Linked DNA regions of Homo sapiens. The protein of the gene in region 1 purifies or fractionates together with the protein of each later gene. This does not show direct contact. Each region holds a gene or a part of one and is shown in the gene's direction. Other genes may lie near its edges. The genes, in order: CEP15, CEP89 and SMPDL3B.

Region 1 (3,500 bases):
CCTCCCTAGGGCAGTCACCCAAGAAACCAAAGCTAGACACAACACAGCAATGTTTCATGAGCTTCTAAAGCCTATAGACTTCTACAGTCAGACCAATAATACAGCATCTCAACTTCCAAGCTATTTGTATTAAAAATGGTTAAATTATATTGACATTTTGTCATCACAAAAATGGGGAAAAATTATAGTGGATATATATTTCCTACACAATTAAGGGTCCAATATCTCTAATTCCTGTACTATAACACACTAGTTGTATTTCAGTTCCTGATCTCATCCCAGGTCAAATCTTTTGATGTTAATCCTGAAGCATGATTTATGTTTGATAATTTCATTGTAATAATTTCAGTATGGGGTAATCATTTGGTATGGGATTTGGAATATTAAACAAAAACATTTAATGATTATATCACCATAAATGATACTATTAGCAATAATCATGAAGTTGGCCACAAGAGGGCGTGTAAAATCACAATAAAATTCTAAAACCTGTAATTCTGCCAGGCTCTGGTTTTACTGAGAAATTTGAAAATTAACACTAGTAAGTAGCCAGATTTTTTTCTAAAATTAACATAAAATATTCTGTAGAGGAAATGCATTCTACATATATGTGTGTGTGTGTGTGTGTGTATACACGCATACACACTCTTAAGTGAATAAACATTTAGACTATTATGAAGAGCCAAGTTCAATTGCTTGATATGCTTTTTTACTTTTGGATTTTTTTTTCCAGACTCGTTACTGGGCATCAGTAGAAGAATATATTCCCAAATGGGAACAGTTTCTTTTAGGAAGAGCACCATATCCTTTTGCTGTTGAAAATCAAAATGAAGCAGAAAATACCATTCAAAATGAGGCACAGCGATAACTTCTTCACATGCTATTTCAAAAAGCCTGTTTAATAAAGCTGAATGTTAAGGTGTATGTAGGTTATTGCAGGAACTTTAGGAATTAAATATGTTCATATTCTTCGATTATCTCCTAAGTGACAGTGAAGATATGAGAATTTACTGGCAAGTCACATGTTATCACCTACTACTATTTCAAGGTCATGAATTTGCTTTCTACCAAACCCATAGATGTGTTAAACACGAATATTAAAAGGTGGACTCTTTATTAATTAAATTATTGTCAGTGTTGTGAGTGTGTTGCTTTAAAAAAAAAAAAATTTACAATCATTCTCCTCTAAGCAGGTATCTTGGTTCTGGTTTTAAGTTAAGTTTTTTAGAATCCTTACTTTTTAGGGACAAGGTATAGGATCAACATGGTTCTTTTTTTTTTTTAAACCATTATTGTTTCTTTTAACAAATTAAAAGACAATGACACCTAAACTGCTCTAGCAAAATAACTTATGAGAAAATAAATTCATAGGATTTTGTCCCTCACAGATAGCCAAAGCTCTGCAAGTTCTGGAGACAGAAAGAACTGAACTATAAAGCAGTCAATAAGTAGCCAGTTTCAGGAAGACTCAGACTTGGTTTTGAAAAAGGATGCCTTTTAGAGCTGGGAAAGGTTATTGGATTTTGACTTGGTTATTTAAAGATTGCCAACCTTGTGAATGCAAATAACCCCACTCTTGTCTTTTCATCTTTAAACTTCCCCTTCCCGCTTCCTTCTAATTTCATTATTCCTGAAAAAACTGTCAGTCAGAAAGCGTTGGGTCACAACCCTAAACAGCTTTGAGATTCCTCAGTCCACCACTGCTTGAGCACTTAAAAAAAAAAAAGAAAAAAAAAATATGTATATATAACTTTCCAGCTATAGAGGCAGCCTCTGCTAGTAAAGGGTACCTATGCTATATTACAATGAAATGTTTTAAATTTCAAACTGGTTTATGTTTTTAAAAGAAGACAATAGGAAAAGCTAAATACACAGCAACAACAACAACTATATTGAAACGTCCGTTGTGCCGATAAGTTCCTTTAAACTACCATCTTGGAAATATCCTGTTGAGTGGGTGTTGGTGTGGGTAACAATAATGTTGTTTTCATAATATGTGCTGGCAGATTAGCACACTTCTCTACAGTGTTAACAGTTGTAATTAAGGAATAAACAGCACAGGGTGTCAGTCCGATGACAATTTCATCTATAGTGTCACAATACAAAATGTCACAAAATATTAGAACTGTTATATAACTATAAAAAGTATCAGCTTAAAAGCTAAAAGCCTTTGAAAAAAGAAGACAGAGGAAGGAAGAAAAAAGAAAACTGGCATAGCAACCAGAACAATTTTATACCTTCTCAAGAATGTTCTGTCATGAAAATAAATTGATAATTTTTTTCTGTTACATTACAGTTTGGTTTCTAGCCATCCAGTTGATTTAGCAGGAGAATGCAGGTTTTTTTAGCAGCTTTGAATTGGTAAACAGATTTAGATGTAGTAGAAAGGAACATGAGGAAGTTGTTTTTTTTTTTAACATCCAATCTTTCCCAGCATATGCACATAAGAAGGTGAATGAAGCAATGTGAAACTTACTTCTCTTTAGTCAAGTGAAAAAAAGGCTAAACATTTGTTAGATGGTAAAATATTGTGTCAAGCGAGTAGGCAAATTCCAAAATTACACAGTGGTTGATACATTAACATCCTCAAATATTTGAGCATGCACTTCCTTTGAGATCTGTAAATTAAATCACCAGTGGGTTAGATAAAAATACAAAACAAATGGCAATCTAACCATCTCAGAAAAGGTTCAGGTTTTTTTCTCCCTAAAACTGAGAACTTGCTAAATAATTTTTGAAAAGCATAAACGTAATACACCCTGGGTTACGATCGAGGGCAGAAGGGAAGGCATTTCCAAGGCTCCTGCTGTAGTGTTTTTCCCATTTTTGTTAATACCTCAAAAACTCCCAGAGATGACTTTATTCCTGGCCCCTGCAGAGCTCCCCTCCCCACCCCCACCTTGTAGACTGTAACAGATTGCACCACATGGTGTCTGTTTAAAAAAAAAAAAAAAATTCCCATAGGGACCTGGATATCCCATTAATGGGCTTTATGTTCCTCATGGCAAATTAGCTTTACACAGGAATTTCCAAACATTGTTTTCTGTTAAGAAGGGAGGAATACCATATATAATGTATATTTTTTCTACAATTAGTAGGAATCAGACAAGGAAAAGGAAATGTCATCTATTCATACCTTTCTCTCCAAATTCAGTGTTCTTTCCATATGCTCCATTGTACTCCACCACTCTTCTCCATGAAAACTATGAATTTATGGTTTTTTTTTAGAAAAATGGAGTTTTCAAAATGAAAGTCAAATAATTTTTTCCAAAGCCGTTTGTGGACTGTTGCAAATGCATAAATATTCAAAGCTCATTTTCTGCAGAAACACTTCTGGTATATGAAATTATTAAACTGTAGAATGCTAAAGATCAGAAGAAGCTACAGTTTTTCTTTAAACTTGAAAAAAAATTAAGAAGTATTAAGGAAAAAGCTTAATACTCTGGAAACCAGACATCTGGTCTTTCTCATGCGTAGGGAGCAGTGTGAATGAAAGTGAA
Region 2 (2,768 bases), on another chromosome or scaffold:
ATTTTGTAAAAAAAAAATTTTTGTAGGCCAGCCATGGTGGCTCACTCCTGTAATCCCAGCACTTTGGGAGGTCGAGGCAGGCGGATCACCCGAGGCCAGGAGTTCGAGACCAGCCTGGCCAACATGGTGAAACCCCATCTCTACTAAAAATACAAAAATTAGCTGGGCATGGTGGTGGGTGCCTGTAATCCCAGCTACTTGGGAGGCTGAGGCAGGAGAATTGCTTGAACCTGGAAGGCGGAGGTTGCAGTGAACCAAGATCACGCCATTATACCCCAGCCTGGGCAGCCTGGGCAACAAGAGCGAGACTTTGTCTCAAAAAAAAAAAATTTTTTTTTTGGTAGAGATGGGGTCTTGCTATGTTGCCCAAGCTGGTCTCAAACGTCTAGCTTCAAGCAATCCTCCTGCCTAGGCCTCCCAAAGTGTTGGGATTATAGGTATGAGCCACCGCGCCTGGTCTGGGAAGGTAATTGATTCTGGAGCCACACAGCTCCCCACCCATGTAATGAGAGCCCTGGCTTTGAGCTAAGATAGAGTCCCTGCCCCACTGCCACCACCAAGAAGCATACCAGGGGGCCATGGTTCTGTCCCATGTGTGTTAGATGACGTGCCACCTCCTCAGGAAAATTACCCCAGCCGCTCAGGACCATTCAGTCCCAGGCATGCTGGAGGGACTTGGGGACATTGGGCTACAAAGGACCCTAACTGTGGGACTCAGGGGTGGCACCCTGCAGCATCTCCTTTTCAGAGCCCCTCGCAGTGAAGTCCTGCCTTGTTTCAGGTGGGAAGGAGGCCCCAGTACTGGTCCTTGGTCATGTGTAGAAGTTCTACGTGTGATCTTTGATTGCCAGACGGAAGGGTGAGATAGAAAATCATAGTTCTTTTATGACTCTATAAGCTTGTTCAACAGTTGAATCATTGTAATTTAATTTTATTTTACAAGCGGTAGAAAGACTCACTGGGATTGAAAACTGTGTATCATCTCCCTAGGAGATGACCTAACAAATAACTGTGATGCTATTTCAAAGGCATTTACGGCCGCTCTGCAGCCTCCTGTAGACAGGCTGACAGGCGGCGGCAGCCCAGCGTGGCTGCGCGGGGCAGGAGTGCTTGTCAGCAGGAATGCTGCTCCCGCCATCGTGACCTAGAGAACCACTGTTGACATCCCTGTCTTTCTGCCTTTTATGCAAACATTTTATTCTTTTGAGAAGTGTCCACTTTTGTTCTTATGTTTCTGCTTTAAGTTTTTCACACAGTGCAAACATACTTTGCAAGTATGGGGACTCCTGGATGGCACTGTGACCAGGGCAAGGGCAGGTGTCCCACAGACACTATCTTCTGCCCAGCCTCCTGCTGGGTGCCATAGGAAATGGGCAGAGAAGCCACGAGTCCAGGATGCCAAGGAGGGCGGGGCAGGCAAGGCAGAGAGGCACCTGGGTGCTTGTGAGATTCCAGGAAAGGACAGAAACATTGGGGTGCTTCTGGGAGGAACTGGCACGCCCCGGCCCTTGCAGAGTGGACAAGGTTTCAGGAGCTACAGAAGGGTGGAGAGGGCCCCCAGGAGCACAGCAGGCACTCAGAGCAGCAGGAGGGGGTTTGGTCAGAGCTTGGGTGGGAAATGAGGCCGGACTGCACAGAGGAGAACTGGGTCTGCTGGGAGGGGCTCCTCCTTCCCCATGCTGCAAGTGTCTGGTCTGAGCAGGGAACCCTTCTCTTTCTTGGTCCTGGTGAGGTTTCATACGGCATTGGAAGATTCCTGGTCAAGCAGCTGTAGAACATGACCCAGGCACGCGAGTGAGCCTTGCTGGCTTTGCCATTATTTAAAAGCAGCCCTGGGCATGGTGATGGCGCCTATGGTTTCAGCTACTCAGGAGGCTGAGGTGGGAGGATCACTTGAGCCTGGGAGGTTGAGGCTGCAGTGAGCTATGATCATGCCACTGCACTCCAGCCTGGGCAACCAGGTGAGACCCTGCCTCAAAAATAATACAATAAAAAGTAAAAGCAGCCCTGGGGAAATGGAGACAGTGGACAAAGCAGGCTGGGGCACCAGGTGTGCATGTGGGTGTGAGTCTGTCATGAGAGCTGTCCTGAATGCCCTTAACGCCACTGAACTGTATGCTGGAAAACAGTGACAACAGTGGATTTTGTTATATAGACAATTAAAAAAGAAATAACACCCAGGCCTGCTTCCTGAGTGTTTGTGTCATTTTACTTTCCCACCACCAACCTCCGCGCAAGTTCCGGTTGCTCCGCATCCTCATCAATGCTTGGTGGTGTTGTCAATAACTGTGTTGAGAGGACAGAGATTTAAGGCCGAGGGTGGCCTAGCATTTAGCCTCGAGCGCAGCTGTCACTGGCTCCTCACCCCCTCCCCTACCTGTATCGTTGGCGGGAATGAAAGGCACAGTCCCCAGTGTGGGTGGCTCAGGAGAGCCCTCCCTGGGCCCAAGCAGCTCTTCCAGCAGGGAGGGCTTGAGCCGGATACAGATCCCACAGCAGGAGGCTGAGCCTCTTGGGATGGGGCTGGGCTGACATCTGAATTCTTGAGTAAGACTGGAAACATCATCCACTCAAAACTTGGCTGGGCGGCATGGGGAGGGCTCAGTGTGCCCAGGTTTGTGGCACCTCTCTGCTGGGTCACAGCTGGGCAGGGGTCCACAGGTAAGGAGTGGCTGCAGCCAGGAGTGGGAGAGGGGATGGGTACAGCTTGTTAGGCCTCTCTTGGTTTTCTCAAGGTGTGAGTCCATGGCCCCAAAGCTGGGCAGGAA
Region 3 (3,734 bases), on another chromosome or scaffold:
GTGGGCATAAGAATCCCTATCTCACAGACTGGCTGCCAGGATGAAATAAGACCAGTGTATGAAAGTCTGGGCACCTATCCAACACTGTCTGAGTGCCTACAATTCTAACTGGCCTCCCCACAGCCTTGTTCATTCATCGAATGTGCATTTGCACGTCTTCCACGTCCCAGGCACCCTTCTAGGCACTGAGGACATAGAGGTAAACAAGACGGGCTTGGTGCTCTCATGGAACTGACATTGTAAACAGGGAAGATGGACAATAAGCAAGCCAACAAGGTAAGTTCACATGTGATAGTGCTCTGAGAAAAAGGAAGCTGGGGAAGAAATAGCGACCAGACAGGCAGGAGAGGTGGCACTTGAGATGAGGTGGTCAGGGGAGTCTTCTGAGGAGGTGACCTTGGGGCAGAGGCCTGAATGAGGAGGAGGCAGCCGCATGATGATGTGGGAAGATTGGGCGAGGCCATGGCGTAGTCAGGGAAGAGGCCCTGTGAGGAGAAGCAGCTTGGCTGAGGGTGGTGGGTTGGGCTGAGCTGACAAGGTCGCTGGGATCTGCACTCCCACAATGAGGAGGCTGGACCCCAAGGAGTTGGAGCTGCCCACCTGGACCCCAAGGAGGTGGAGCTGCCCGCCTGGACCTCTGGCTCTCTCCACCATTCTGTCCACTAGCCTGGCCTCTCCTGGAGTCAGCACACACACATGCACACACACAGACACACACGCACACACACATAAACACACATGCATGTACACACACCCTTCAGCAGTATGTGCCAGAGAGGCTGGAAAGTAGTTTCAGTTCTACACACTGGCTGGAAAACGACAACTGACAGGTGAGATGAGGAGTTTCTGGAGTGGAGAAATGTTCCTGAATACTTTGAGGGCTGACGTCAAAGGGGCCAAACTGCTCAGTGTTTGTAGTTAACTGAGAAAGAGCCAGCTTGAGGCAGGGGAATAGCCTCTTTCTCTGTCTGCAGAGGAAGCGCAAGGACCATGTGCCCAAGAGAAAGGCAAAGGGCCTCCCCCAACATCCATCCTGGCCAGCCTGGCTCCGGGCTTGGAAGCAGGTGAGAGCCACTCACGGTCTCAGCTCAGGGACTTGGGATGCCCAGCAACTCTGCCCACCAACTAACTGGTATGAGGCAGTTCATTCCTTTACTCTGGCTTGGGGTTTTGTCACTGTATTCTTTTTAATTTTTTTGAGACAGTCTTGCTGTGTCGCACAGGCAGGAGTGCAGTGGTGCAATCTCGGCTCACTGCAACCTCCGCCTCCTGGGTTCAAGCGATTCTCCTGCCTCAGCTTCCCAAGTAGCTGTAGCTGGGATTAAAAGAGTGTACCACCATGCCTGGCTATTTTTTTGTTTTTTGTTGTTGTGTTTTTTTTTGAGATGGAGTCTCGCTCTGTCGCCAGGCTGGAGTGCAGTGGCACAATCTCGGCTCACTGCAACCTCCGCCTCCTGGGTTCAAGCAATTCTCCTGCCTCAGCCTCCTGAGTAGCTGGGATTACAGGCGTGAGCCACTGTGCCTGGCTGAATTTTATTTTCTGTAGAGACGAAGTCTTGCTTTGTTGCCCCTGCTAGTCTTGAACTCCTGGCCTCAAGCAATCTTCCTGCCTTAACCTCCCAAAGTGCTGAGATTACAGGTGTGAGCCACTGTGCCACCATGCCTGGCAGGAATATATTAGTGATCACAATATGTGTGGAAAGGTTAAATTTTCCCCATTATAAACAAAGGCTCAGTTTGGATAAAAAATAAAAATGTGGGAATATGCTGTCAACAAAAAGACCCATCTAAAATAGAAAGGCACTGGTTTTTAACCCCTTTCACAATCACATCTTCCTGGGAGGGATTGGAGCCCAGAGATCCCCATCATTTACCATGTGATCTTAGGCATGTTGACCTCCAGACCTTAGTTTCCTTATCTGTAAAGTGGGATAATGTTCCCAGGGCTCTGCGGAGAACACTGTAACAATGCATGTGGGAGGGATAATGATTTGCTTAATCAGCCATTTACACTTTAGTATGAATGTGTTTCACATCCTTTCCTGAGACTGTTTAGATCAGGAGAGGTGGGGAAAAGCTCAAGAGCATCTGGGAGGGAAAGTCAAGGAGTGAGGGTCAGGGGCCAGCCTTTATCTGCAGGCTGTCCACTGAATGTCCTGTGGCCTGGGTGGGGCCCTGGCTATCCAACCCTGAGATCAAAAGAAGTCCAGTCTCCCAGGCCCAGACACAGCTTCTTGGGGCCAGTGATGTTGACTTGTGGCTCTAGGTGACACAAGAAATGGGGGAGGAAGTGATTGCAATAGCAGAGGGTGAGGAAATCCTGGGCGTCATTCTTGTTTTATCGAGAAACAGGATGAACAGAGGCCAGATCTGCTCAACCCTCCTTCAGTAAGCAGTCATTGAAACAACTTGTGCTGGCCAGGTGCGGTGGCTCACGCCTGTAATGCCAGCACTTTGGGAAGCTGAGGCGGGCGGATCACCTGAGGTCAAGGAGTTTGAGACCAGCCTGGCTAACATGGCGAAACCCCATTTCTACTAAAAATACAAATACAAAAAAAAAAAAATTAGCTGGGCGTGGTGGCGCATGACTGTAATCCCAGCTGCTTGGGAGGCTGAGGCCAGAGAATCACTTGAACCCAGGAGGCAGAGGTTGCAGTGAGCCGAGATTGCACCATTGCACTCCAGCTTGGGCACAGAGCGAAACTCTGTCTCAAAAAAAAAAAAAAAAAAAAGAAACTACTGTGCCAGGCCGTGTTGGGTTCGCATGAGAAGTCTACTCCATCTCACCTGTTTCTTTGGATTCCTTTCTCTTTATTACACTGTGAAGTTTTTTGCCACTTCAGCCTCCTTTGGTCGGAAACTGAGTCTAGGTTTCGGTCAATCACCTCAGCAAGCAGGACCACTCCCAGCTGCTTGAGCCACACCTTGGATCCAGAATCACCAGCAAATATACCTACCAGAGGAGGTCAGCCCGATCTGAAGTGGCGTTCCTTTTTCCCTGGTCTAGTACTCTTATACTCACTTCCACATGTAGTCCCCAGGTTTTTGCTGTTTTTGTTTTGTTTTGTTTTGGAGACAGAGTCTTGCTCTGTCACCCAGGCTGCAGTGCAGTGGCATGATCATGGCTCACTGCAGCCTCCACCTCCTGGGCTCAGGCGATCCTCTCACCTTAGCCTCCTGAGTAGCTGGGACCACAGGTACATGACCCCACACCCGACGAATTTTCTAAATTTTGTGTAGAGATGAGGTCCGCCTATGTAGCCCAGGCTGGTCTTGAACTCCTGGCCTCAAAGAATCATCTTACCTTGGCCTCCCAAAGTACTGGGATTACAGGCATGAACCACTGCACCCGGGCTTTGCTGGTATTGCTTAGCAAGGTTTTCCAGCTCATTTGGTGTGTAAGCCTTTTCCATCCAGGTCAGACTTTTTTCTTTTTTTTTTTTTTTAATTTTCCAAGAAATTCCAGGACAGGTCAGATTTTCATATGTAGTTATATTTCCCTGCAGCATGAGAGGATATGGCTCTAGTTAATGGGCTTAGAAAAGTGACATAGCCCAGGTCACACAGCTCCTAAGTGGCTCAGAGCCTGAGCACTTAACCCATACCCTCTCCCGCCTTTGCTTTAAAACAAGCCCCCTCATTAGAATGCCTGAGCTCTAATGTTGTGGCTGCCCATCCAATGTGGGGAGGAGGACGGGGCCTTGCCAAAGGTCAGCGCTCAGGGATGGAGCTGA

Evidence for each region.
Region 2: the proteins of CEP15 (region 1) and CEP89 purify together in Homo sapiens (affinity purification with mass spectrometry; one large-scale study listed by BioGRID and IntAct). This does not show direct contact.
Region 3: the proteins of CEP15 (region 1) and SMPDL3B purify together in Homo sapiens (affinity purification with mass spectrometry; one large-scale study listed by BioGRID and IntAct). This does not show direct contact.

What each region holds. Positions count from the first base shown.
Region 1 is NC_000003.12:62,332,522-62,336,021, forward strand, and holds part of CEP15 (centrosomal protein 15), read left to right. Parts: intron 1-733; coding exon 734-868; 3' UTR 869-3,500. UniProt on the Homo sapiens protein: May play a role in ciliary assembly.
Region 2 is NC_000019.10:32,875,337-32,878,104, reverse strand, and holds the end of CEP89 (centrosomal protein of 89 kDa), read left to right. Parts: 3' UTR 1-2,180; downstream 2,181-2,768. UniProt on the Homo sapiens protein: Required for ciliogenesis. Also plays a role in mitochondrial metabolism where it may modulate complex IV activity.
Region 3 is NC_000001.11:27,941,301-27,945,034, forward strand, and holds part of SMPDL3B (acid sphingomyelinase-like phosphodiesterase 3b isoform 1 precursor), read left to right. Parts: intron 1-974; coding exon of another isoform or gene 975-1,064; intron 1,065-3,734. UniProt on the Homo sapiens protein: Lipid-modulating phosphodiesterase. Active on the surface of macrophages and dendritic cells and strongly influences macrophage lipid composition and membrane fluidity. Acts as a negative regulator of Toll-like receptor signaling.